4 separate regions of the Homo sapiens genome follow, and regions 1, 3 and 4 are each linked to region 2. Evidence: fine-mapped expression QTL. A gene starts in region 2. Each other region holds a variant in brackets. All regions are shown on one strand. Distances are between the middles of the regions.

Region 1 (2,500 bases), 41 kb after region 2:
CCACATCCTGCCACACAAGAGGCGGCCCCACCAGAGGGTCACCCGGACTCCACAGCCCATCACAGGGATGGGGAAGACCACCGTGGCATTGCTGTGGGTCCACCCTCGAGGCTGCCTGCCAGCGGTACAAGCACTCTAGGCTCAGGTCAGGGAGCAGCTGCCAGGACCTCAAAGGTTTGGACTCGGCTGGGCGCAGTGGCTCACGCCTGTAATCCCAGCACTTTGGGAGGCCGAGGCGGGCGGAGCACGAGGTCAGGAGATCGAGACCATCCTGGCTAACATGGTGAAACCCCGTCTCTACTAAAAATACATAAAAATATTAGCCGGGTGTGGTGGCGGTGCCTGTAGTCCCAGCTACCTGGGAGGCTGAGGCAGGAGAACAGCGTGAACCCGGGAGGCAGAGCTTGCAGTGAGCCGAGAGTATGCCACTGTGTTCCAGCCTGGGTGACAGAGTGAGACTCCATCTCAAAAAAAAAAAGTTCCGACTCAAGAACATGCAGGTGGCGAGTACCCAAGTGCCACCAGCCACACGGCCAGGACAGGGCTCAGACATCCCCCCGGCTTCTCTCCTTGCGCTTCAGCCGCATGAGATGCCTGTGGCTTCCCTGCCCCTTTGCCAACCATCCGGCTGCAGGGACACCCACTCGGCCCCGCTGACCGCCTCTCATCTGTGTGCCGTCCCAGAGAGGGCACTCGGCCACTGAGGAACTTCAGCCAGTCCTGCTCTATCAGGTCCTTAAGTTTTCCAAACGTCATCACTTCAGACAATGCTGAGCCCGTGCAGGCACAGGGATTATGGCCTTAAGGCAGGAGGCTGAGGAGAATTAGCTCAGTCAGGGCCTGTGTGCCTCTTTAAGACTCCGCATGGGAAGCCAGTGCTCCCTCTACCTGAGAGGGCTCATTCCCGGTTCCCTCCACCCACGGAGTCTCCCCCTCGCCGTGCCAAGGCCTGTGGGTCCTCTCGTTGCTACAGTGAAAGGTGCCCCCTGCCCAGCCCCACTGCTGGGGAGACCCAGGGGCCAAAGGCAGGCAGGTGTGGCCAGGCTGCCCCCCTGTAAAACAAGGTCTCAGTGGAGGGTCACAGGCCACGTGGGGAACACCTGTTATCCTAGAAAAACAGAAAAAAAAAAGCAATCATTTGTGCTAGTGTGTGCTAAGGATGCTGTTCCCAAGCACCCAAAATCCCAGGGAGACCTACGGCAGCCCGCAACACGGGTCTGCACAGCCGAGAGCCCACAGTGACCCTTGGCAAGTGGAAAGCTGTGCTTGAAGAGAAACCGGAGCTGAGTCCTTAAAGAGAGGGGAGGGAGTGCCTTGGGGCTGGCAGGGTAGGTGGAAGGTGGACGATGGAGGCTGGGTCCAGCTGTCTTGCAGGCAGCTCGGGACGGTGCCCAGCGCTGTGCCCATCTTCTCTAGGGACAAATGTGCCCGTTGTTTCTTTTCACAGCTTATGGACTCAGATGCCAACGTAAGATTCCCTCTTTCATTTACATTCGCTTCTCTTTTA[G/A]TATAAAATTAACCTATTTCTGTTGCACAAAATTTAGAAAAGAAAGCATCCGAAAAAGCTAGCCCTGCTTTCATTTCGGGGTCTCTTTCGTGACACGTTTATCTCGTTACAAAAATGGACTATTCTTAACCCGCCCTGTCCCTGACATGCCAGGCGATTCCTCCTCCTACAGAAGCTAACTTTCACATGGGAAAAGGCACCACCACCGGCCCGGCTGTGCCCCGGGGGGTCAGTCTGGAGTCGCCGCAAACAAACGCGCCAAACACGGTGGTCCCGTACCCAGGCGCTGCGGAAGCCCGGCAGGACCCCGGCAGGACCCCGGCAGGCGTTCGGCGCACCTGTCGGCCGCTCCTCGGACCAGGGCAGACTTCCTTCCAGTCCTGGCCTGGATGGGGTGAGGGAGAGGGGATGCCCCGCGCTGCCTCGCGAAGCCGGCAGCACCGCCGGGGCTCCGGCCCAGGGCACCAGGAGGCAAATGAGCCGCGGGACGGGGGCGGGGGCAGCGACTCCGGGAGAGCCGGGACCTGCTCCCGCGGGCCCAGAGCCAGGGAAAGCCCAGCGCCGCGCGGACCCCACGGACGGGCCGCCAGGCTGTGGCCGAGCCCCGAACGCCGGCGTCGAATCCCGCAGTCACCAGCCGCGCCCACCCCGGCGGGGCTCGCAGAGGCGGACGCGCGGGCCCCGGGGAAGACGGCAGCCACGGCGCCGCGCAGGAGACCCCGGCCCGAGGCCCCGCGGGCGAGGAGGGACGCAGGGCGGAGAGACCGAGGGGCCCGGCTGCGCGCTGCGCCTCAGTTTCCCCATCCGAACGCGGGGGGCCGAGGGCGCGGGGCTCTTCCGGCCCCGCCGCCCGCCCCGGCCCCGTCGCCTGTCCCGGCCCCAGCCCTGACCCCGGGCCCGGGCCCTCACCAGGATGGCCTTGTCCTGCTCCGTGACGCGGCTCTGCTTCTTGCGGCCGAACAGGTTACCCATGGCGGCGCCCGCCCCTGGCCC
Region 2 (2,751 bases):
TTCAGACAGCCCCCATGCCGTCCTGGCCGCCGCAACCCCTGGGCCCGCCGCCCCCGCCGCCCCGGCCCTGCCCGGGTGTGCTACGACCCCGACCGGTCCGAGGGCTTCCGGGGCCCGGCGCGCGGCTCCGTTCCCGCCGACGCCAAGGCGAGCGCGCGGGGGCCGAGCAGGGCCGTCGGAGCGGGGAGTGCTCCCCGGGCCTGGGGCTGGGGACTGACCGGGCCGCGGCGCGCATGGGATGGGGGGGCCCGGGCGGGGGTGGCCACCTGTGAGCGGCCGGCGCCGGGCTCACCACCCCAGCAGCCCGGGTCCCGGGTGGCCGCGCCGGGAAGACCCCCAAAGTCCCAGCCTCCTGGCCCGGCGCGCGGCCCCGGGGCCGCCCTGGTCGGGCTCGGGCGCGCGGGCGGCGCGCGACCCAGGCGCACACGGAGCGGGCTCAGCTCGGCGCCGGGGGGCGCTCACCTTATAGACATTTTCCGTGAGCCGGTGCATCTCCTCTGAGCGAGACAGAGACATGGTCCTGGGTCCCGGCTGCACCACAGACCGGAGCGGGGGACGCAAGCGGCGGCAGCAGCGGCGGTAACGGCAGCAGGACGGAGACGAAAGCGGACCCGAACCACAGAGCCCGGCGTCCGGCGGCGGCCACCTTTATAGCCGCCTCAGGCCCCGCCCCGCGGCAGTCCCCGCCCCTGCGTCCCGCCCCCGTTGCGCCCGCATCACCGCCCCCGACCACCCGCCCCCGCCCGGCGCTGCCGCTGCTAGGCAACCGCCAGGCCCCGCCCCCGCACCGCCCTTTCCATTGGTGGGTTCCGGAGAAGGGGGAGGGGGGCGGGATCGGAGGTGGGGCCTAGTGGCCGACTCCAGGCAGCGATTGGTCTGCGGCGGCGTCGATCCTGGGGGAGGAGAGGGGAGGCGCGGCGCGGGCTGGGGCCCTGGGAGCAGCCTGAGGGGGCCCGGGCAACAGCCGGGCTGGGGGCGGGGAGGCGGGGGCGGGGTGGCGCAGGAAGAAGGAGCAGAAGGTGCGGGGAGGAGAGCGGGGGGCGCCGGCGGCAGCGCGCGTGGAGGCGGCACTTCGCGAAGTGGCACTTCGGGGCGGGCGGCCCGCCGGGTCGCGGCCTGGCGCTGCGGGGCGGGGAGCGGCTCGGACGCAGGACGCCGCGGGCCGGGCTTACAGGTGGGAGAGGCCCCGACCCCGCCGCTTCGCAGGTAAGCCCGCCGGGCGGGCGGCGACCCCCCGGCCGGCCCCTCGGGGCAGAGAGGAGAACCCTGGGGGAGGGGGTGCTGCAGGAGGACCCTGGAGAGAGCTCGGCCCTGGAGTGGGGGACGACTTGGAGAAGGAGGATTTCGGGGGAGCATCGTGAGGAGAGGACTTGGAGGGAGGATCCTGCAGAAGGTGAACTCTGGGGAGGACCCCAGACAGGCAGACAGCGCTTGGGGGCTTGGGGCCGGGATTCTGGAGAGGGGAGGACCCTGGGAGAGGAGGGTTGGGGAAGAGGATCTTGGAGGAGGGCCCTGGGAAGGAGGATCTGGAGAGGGGACAGGGGAGTGTCCTGCTGGAAGGCCTGGGGACAGGGCGACCCTTAGGGACGGGGAGGACCCTCCTGCCGTCAGAAGATTCTCGTTGGAGGCAGTTTACTGAGAGAGAGAGGTCTCGGGAAGGAAGGGTCGAGGGCAGTAGGAAACGAGGGGCCCGGAGGACTCTCATGCGGTGGAAAGCCCTAGGGGGTGGGGGAACCTTGTAGGAGGAATGGAGGAGTCAGAGCTGCCTCCAATTTTTAGGAAGGGTCCTGCTTAAGGGTCCTCCCAAGGGGAGATTCTGCCGGGGAAGCTGGCCGAGTTGGCACACAGGTCTCCCGGTACAATTCCCGTGGAGAAATATTTACATAAATTAGGCTAACATAGAGGAATTATTTGTTTTACGTTGTGAAACACCAGATCTGAGCGTTTCCGTTTAATGAAACCTCTCAGTCTCCCAGCCTCCCATCCCTGCAAAATCATTCATTCATTCATTCCTTCAACGAGTCAGGCCCCTGGGGGAGACGCAGTTGTGCTGGCTGGCCGGCAGATCCCCAGACTGGCACGGGCTCAGGCCGATGGAAAGACCAGGGAAGTAAGATTCAGGAAGCATTGCCTCCCTCCCACCACAGCCCCGCGCCTCCTCTCCTCCGGCTGAATTTCCTTCCAGCTACTGGCCCTGGCTGCTTCCTTTTTCTTTATTGTCTCCAGTGTTTGGGGGTAGATCCCTGTGTATTTATTTTCTAGGATTCTTTTGGTGGTAAATGACAGAAAGCTCGCTCAAACTGGCCCTAACAAATGAGGGCATTTACCTGAAGGTAGGAGCATCTCCACTGACCCTGACCCCCTTCTTCTAGGCCAGCTTCCTGCTGTGTTCCCTGCACCCACCGATCTCACACGCAGCCCTAGGACAGACGTCCACTGGCCTGAGTTGGGTCTGGGGCCAACACGGAGCAGGTGGGGGTAGAGCAGCTCTGCTCGCCTGGAGGAAAGTTGAATGGCTGGAACCAAGATGACAGATGGAGGCTGGCAGGCAAACACGGGAGGCCTCCTCACTCCAAGAGGGGAGTCAGCCTGGGGACAGTTCTTCTCCAGGCCCTGCTGCTCCCATCAGCTGCAACACAGGAGAGGTAGGCTTCTCCGGAAAAGCTCCCACGGTCCTGGATCCCGCTCCACCTTCTAGAAGCTCCCAGCGTTACTTCCTGAGCTGGCCTGCACATCGTTGCGCTACTCCCG
Region 3 (2,500 bases), 39 kb before region 2:
GCCCATTCTTCCCTGTGGTTTAGAAAACAGAACTACATTATTCTCTTCCCAGCCCAACCTTTCCAACCTGGAGAGAAGTTGCAGGGATAGCAGAGCAAACACCCATTCACTTCGCCGAGGTTCCCTGGCGGTGTGCTTTGCCACAATCGCTTCACCACTCTTTCTGTGATGTATAGGTACACCCACATGCACTCACACGCATCCGTACATGCACACAGACACACAGGCACTTATGCATCCGTGCACACACACAGGCACTCACACGCATCTGTGCACGCACACAGACGCACAGACACGCATCCGTGCATGCACACACACAGGCACTCATACGCATCCGTGCACGCAGACACAGAGGCACTCAACGCATCCGTGCACGCACACAGGCACTCACGCATCCGTGCACGCACACACAGGCACTCACACATCCATGCACGCACACGAACAGGCACTCACACATCTGTGCACGTGCACACACACAGGCAACTCGTACGCATCCATGCACGCACAGACACAGGCATTCACATGTATCCGTGCATGCACACACACTGGCACTCACATGTATTTGTGCATACACACACGTACTCACACGCATCCATGCACGCACACCAGCACTCACGTATCCGTGCACGCACACACAGTGACACATGTACCAGTGCACGCACACTCACACGTATCCGTGCATGCACACACACCGGCACTCACACGTATCCATGCATGCACACAGACACACAGGCACTTTTTTCAGCCCCTTGAGACTCAACTGCAGACATCAGACAATGTGATGCTGCCCCTGCCCCCAATACTGCAGCTGTGTCCTAAGAGCAAGGACCTTCTCTGCCTCATCACGCCTCCATTGTGACACACAGGAAGGTTACCACAGACGCATCCTCCTCTCATCAACAGCACACACCATGCTCCTGAATGGCCCGACGATGCCATTGACAAGCTCCTCCCTGATCCAGGTTCTCATCAAGGGTCCCGCTGTGTTGCGTTGGCACGTGGCTTTAGTCTCTCTCATTTTAGGAAAACAAATCAGCATTCCACCTATTGGAAGACTGCTCCATAAGCACTTGAGACAAATAAGTGATACACGGGCTTAACCGTGAGCGACAAGGAACTGGCGCCTGCCAGCTCCCAGAGGACTCTCACCCTTCCTCTGGGGCGCTGGGCATCTTTAGTCCTTTAACCTAGAAGAGCCCCTCACACTTCGGCTTTCACAACAGTGACATTTTAAAGATTTGTGCCTTTTTTTACTCCAGAAAATACAACGTGTTCTTATAGTCTGCGAGTGACAAGAACCTGAGAGAGAGCGTGAATCTCAGAGACAGTGAAAAAGACTGGGGGAGGGAAGAGCCTGGGCCTCGGATGCTCTCAGCCCAGGGTTGGAGGCAGATCTGTGCAGATCGTCGTCCTCATCTGCGAGGGCAAACAGCAGCTCAGACCCTGCCCGAGGGTCCCCAAATGCTTGACTCCGAATCCCAAATGGAGCATAAACAGCATTTCATGATGATTTCAGTTAACACTC[T/C]GCTTAGTCAGTTAAAAGATCATTTCTACCAAAGCACGGCCCGAGACCAGCTTGGTGACTGCTCCCAGGAAGAAGGCTGGCGGCCCTGGCTGAGCCCAGGGTGAGGGGAGCAGCACAGCCTCCACCTCCCCACCCCGGCCTGGTACTCCTACAAACCAAGAGGTCCGAGTATCTGAAAGGCACCCCAGGTGGTAAAAGTTCTGAACTCCTGGGTAACCAAGAGACTGCACAGGAAGCTGGGACCACAGTGGTGGGGAAGGTCCGAGAAGGAGGCTTCGATCTCTGAGGAGCAGGGGTGCTGAGCCCTGGCATGGGGAGGGGCCGCTGGAGGGTCATGGGGACAGAAGGCCCCACGCCACCTACGAAGAGAGCTTCAACCCACTGGGGCCACCAGGGCCCCAGAGCAGGTACCCTCCACCTGCTACCTGTCTGCTGGCTGGGGGTCATCCTGGAGGTGACAGGCACCCAATACCCAGGGCTGTGGGAAGGGGCTCCAGGCCAGATGCCATTTTCTCATCAGGGAAGCGTGCATGTTTGTACCCGGCACCCGGGATTAAATCAGTAAGATGCAGGCTCATGACCACAGACAATGAGGTCCGTGAGGCCCACGGGACAGCCCGGCCCCAGAGCAAGGACTGGGGGTGTGTTCACCTGCTCAGCAGACAGCCCCACTCTGACACCAATGGCCCCTTCTCATACACCCACCTCCAAGCAGAGGACGCTGGGCGAAGAGGTCAGGAAAAATGAAAGAAAGGCAGAGCCTGCCAGACAGCGTCCGCCCGCCTGTGCTCAGAGTGGGAGGCGTGGCCTCTGGGCGCAGGTGTCTGCAAAGGTTGAAGACCCCACGGACTTGGGTCAGCACCTGCCAGAGCTCTCCCAGGAGGGTTAGCCTCCTTCTCGGACAGGGGCCAGGAATTCAGGAAATGCCAGGTTCGGGTGGGGACGTGGAGACGGCTGTGAGGCTGTGGCCCAAGT
Region 4 (2,752 bases), 28 kb after region 2:
CCCAAGTAGCTAGGACTATAGGCATGCACCACCATGCCTCCCGGGTTCACGCCATTCTTCTGCCTCAGCCTCCCGAGTAGCTGGGACTACAGGTGCCCGCCACCACGCCCGGCTAATTTTTGTATTTTTAGTAGAGACGGGGTTTCACCTTGTTAGCCAGGATGGTCTCGATCTCCTGACCTCGTGATCCTCCCGCCTCGGCCTCCCAAAGTGCTGGGATTACAGGTGTTAGCCACCGCGCCCAGCCTAAGATACCCACTTCTAATCAACATTGTACTGAAGCTTTAACCAGGCACTTAGAGAAGGAAATGAAATTAAAGGCATCCAGGTTGGAAATTAAGAGGTAAACTATCTCTCTTTACAAGTGACCTCATCTTGTATATAAAAAGTCCTAAGGATTTCACTTAAAAAAACCCTAATAAACAAGTTCAGCAACATTGCAGGAGACAAGCTCAATATACAAAATCAGCTGTATTTCTGTATATTTAAGTGAATAATCTGAAATTGAAATTAAGAAGATTTCATTTACAATAGCACCAAAAATAAAACAGTAATAGGCTGAACAAAACAAGTATAAAATTTATACTCTGAAAACTACAAAACTTGGTTGAAAGAAAGTAAAGAAGACCAAAATAAATGGAAAGGCACCCTCAATCCACGGATCTGGACTTAATGTAGCGGAGACGGCGGCACTCTCCAAACACATCCACAGATTCTACGCAACTCCTATCAACATCTCACTTGGCTCCTCCGCAGAAACTGAAAAGCTTATCCTAAAAATTCACATGGAAATTTGAGGGTCCCAGAATAGCCAAAACAATCTTGAAAAAGAAGAACAAAGTTGGAGAACTCACACTTCCCAATTTCAAAGCTTACTACAAGGCTGCCATGAGGACGTAAGAATAGACACACAGAGCAATGGGACAGAACTGAGGGCTGGAAAGAAGCTCCTGGCTACAGGCAGCGGGTTTCCACACGGTGCCAAAACAATTACACGGAGAAAGGACTGTCTTTTTAACAAATGACGCTGGGACAGAAAAATACCCACATATAAAAGGAAGAAGTCAAGCCGGGCGCGGTGGCTCACGGCTGCAATCCCAGCACTTTGGGAGGCTGAGCCAGGCAGATCACCTGAGGTCAGGAGTTCAAGACCAGCCTCGCCAACAGAGTGAGACCCTGTCTCAAAAACATATTTATATAAATATAAATAAACTATAAAACTGTTAAGAAATCATAGACACAAATCTTCATGATCTTGGATTAAGCAGGGGTTCCTTAGCTATGACACCAAAAGCACAAGGAACAACAACAAAAATAAATTAGATTTCATCAAAATTAAAAACTTTTGTGCTTCAAGGGACACCATCAAAAAGGTTAACAAGACATCCCAAAGAATGGGTGAAAATATTTGCAAATCATGTGTCTAATAAGGGTCTAGTATCCCGAATAAAGTATTACAACTCAATAAAAAGACAACGAACCCAATTAAAAATAGGCAAATTATCTGAATAGACATTTCTCTAAGATATACAAATGGTCAGTAACACCCACGAAAAAATGCTCAACACCATTAGACACCAGAGAAATGCAGGTCAAAGCCACA[A/G]TGACGTACCACCTCATGCCTGCTAGAGTGGCTGTAATCAAAAAGAATATAAGAGTTGGTGAGGCTGTAGAGAGACCAGAACCATCGGCCACTGTGCAAAAGAGTGTGGTCGTTCATCCTATGGGTGAACATCCAGTTACCACACAACCCAGCAATTCCACTCCCAGGTGCAGACCCAAGAGCAGACGCTGTCCACACAGAAACCTGTATAGGAATGTGTTTGTTTTTAAAATTTGTTTATTTTTGTTTTATTTCTTTATATGAGACGGAGTCTTGCTCTGTTGCCAGGCTGGAGTGCAGTGGCGCAATCTCGGCTCACTGCAACCTCTGCCTCATGGGTTCAAGCGATTCTCCTGCCTCAGCCTCCAGAGTAGCTGGGACTACAGGTGTACACCACCACGCCTGGCTGATTTTTGTTTTTTTTTGAGTCTTTTTTTTTTTTTTTTTTTGAGACAGAGTCTTGCTCTGTCACCCAGGCTGCAAGTGCAATGGCATGATCTCGGCTCACTGCAACCTCTGCCTCCCAGGTTCAAGCGATTCTCCTGCCTCAGCCTCCCGAGTAGCTGGGACTACAGGCATGCGCCACCACGCCTGGCTAATTTTGTATTTTTAGTAGAAACGGGGTTTCTCCATGCTGGTCAGGCTGGTCTCAAACTCCTGATCTCAGGTAATCCACCCGCCTCGGCCTCCCAAAGTGCTAGGATTACAGACGTGAGCCACCTCAGCCGACCTTGTTATTTATTGTTTTTTGTTTGTTTTTTTTTTTTTTTTGGAGACAGAGTCTCGCACTGTCACCAGGGCTGCAGTCTGGAGTGCAGTGGCACGATCTCGGCTCACTGCAACCTCTGCCTCCGCCTCCCGGATTCAAGCCATTCTCTTGGCTCAGCCTCCCTAGTAGCTGGGATTACAGGCGCCCGCCACCATGCCCAGCTAATTTTTGTATTTTTAGTAGAGACGGGGTTTCACCATGTTGGCCAGGCTGGCCTCGAAATCCTGACCTCGTGATTCGCCTGCCTCGGCCTCCCAAAGTGTTGGGATTACGGGCGTGAGCCACCGCGCCCAGCCCCGTTTTTTTTTTTAAAAGACAGAGTCTTGCTCTGTCGCCCAGGATGGAGTCCAGTGGCATGATCAACTCTGCAGCCTCAAACT

Evidence for each region. PIP is the estimated chance that this variant, and not a neighbour inherited with it, causes the effect.
Region 1: its variant is fine-mapped to the expression of BAIAP2-DT in whole blood (TOPMed, PIP above 0.99).
Region 3: its variant is fine-mapped to the expression of BAIAP2-DT in whole blood (TOPMed, PIP 0.94).
Region 4: its variant is fine-mapped to the expression of BAIAP2-DT in whole blood (INTERVAL, PIP above 0.99).

What each region holds. Positions count from the first base shown.
Region 1 is chr17:80,991,898-80,994,397 of GRCh38, reverse strand. It overlaps CHMP6 (charged multivesicular body protein 6), which reads right to left. Exons shown (of 8, transcript NM_024591.5): 1 at 2,417-2,500. The coding sequence starts at 2,479. Among named protein-coding and RNA genes, the nearest start is that of CHMP6, 1.3 kb to the right of the region's middle. RefSeq lists silencers at 1,855-2,044, 2,055-2,204, 2,335-2,500. The variant G/A (reference allele first, on the strand shown) is at 1,508.
Region 2 is chr17:81,033,020-81,035,770 of GRCh38, reverse strand. BAIAP2-DT (BAIAP2 divergent transcript) reads left to right here and starts at 1,052. Exons shown (of 2, transcript NR_026857.1): 1 at 1,052-1,206; 2 at 2,373-2,751. It overlaps BAIAP2 (BAR/IMD domain containing adaptor protein 2), which reads right to left and starts at 620. Exons shown (of 14, transcript NM_001144888.2): 1 at 463-620. The coding sequence starts at 516. RefSeq lists an enhancer at 1-803 and a silencer at 675-984.
Region 3 is chr17:81,072,504-81,075,003 of GRCh38, reverse strand. The region is part of intron 3 of BAIAP2 (BAR/IMD domain containing adaptor protein 2); the gene reads right to left. Among named protein-coding and RNA genes, the nearest start is that of BAIAP2, 39 kb to the right of the region's middle. The variant T/C (reference allele first, on the strand shown) is at 1,526.
Region 4 is chr17:81,005,145-81,007,896 of GRCh38, reverse strand. It overlaps LOC124904077 (translation initiation factor IF-2-like), which reads right to left. Exons shown (of 1, transcript XM_047437254.1): 1 at 1-2,752. Among named protein-coding and RNA genes, the nearest start is that of CHMP6, 15 kb to the right of the region's middle. The variant A/G (reference allele first, on the strand shown) is at 1,604.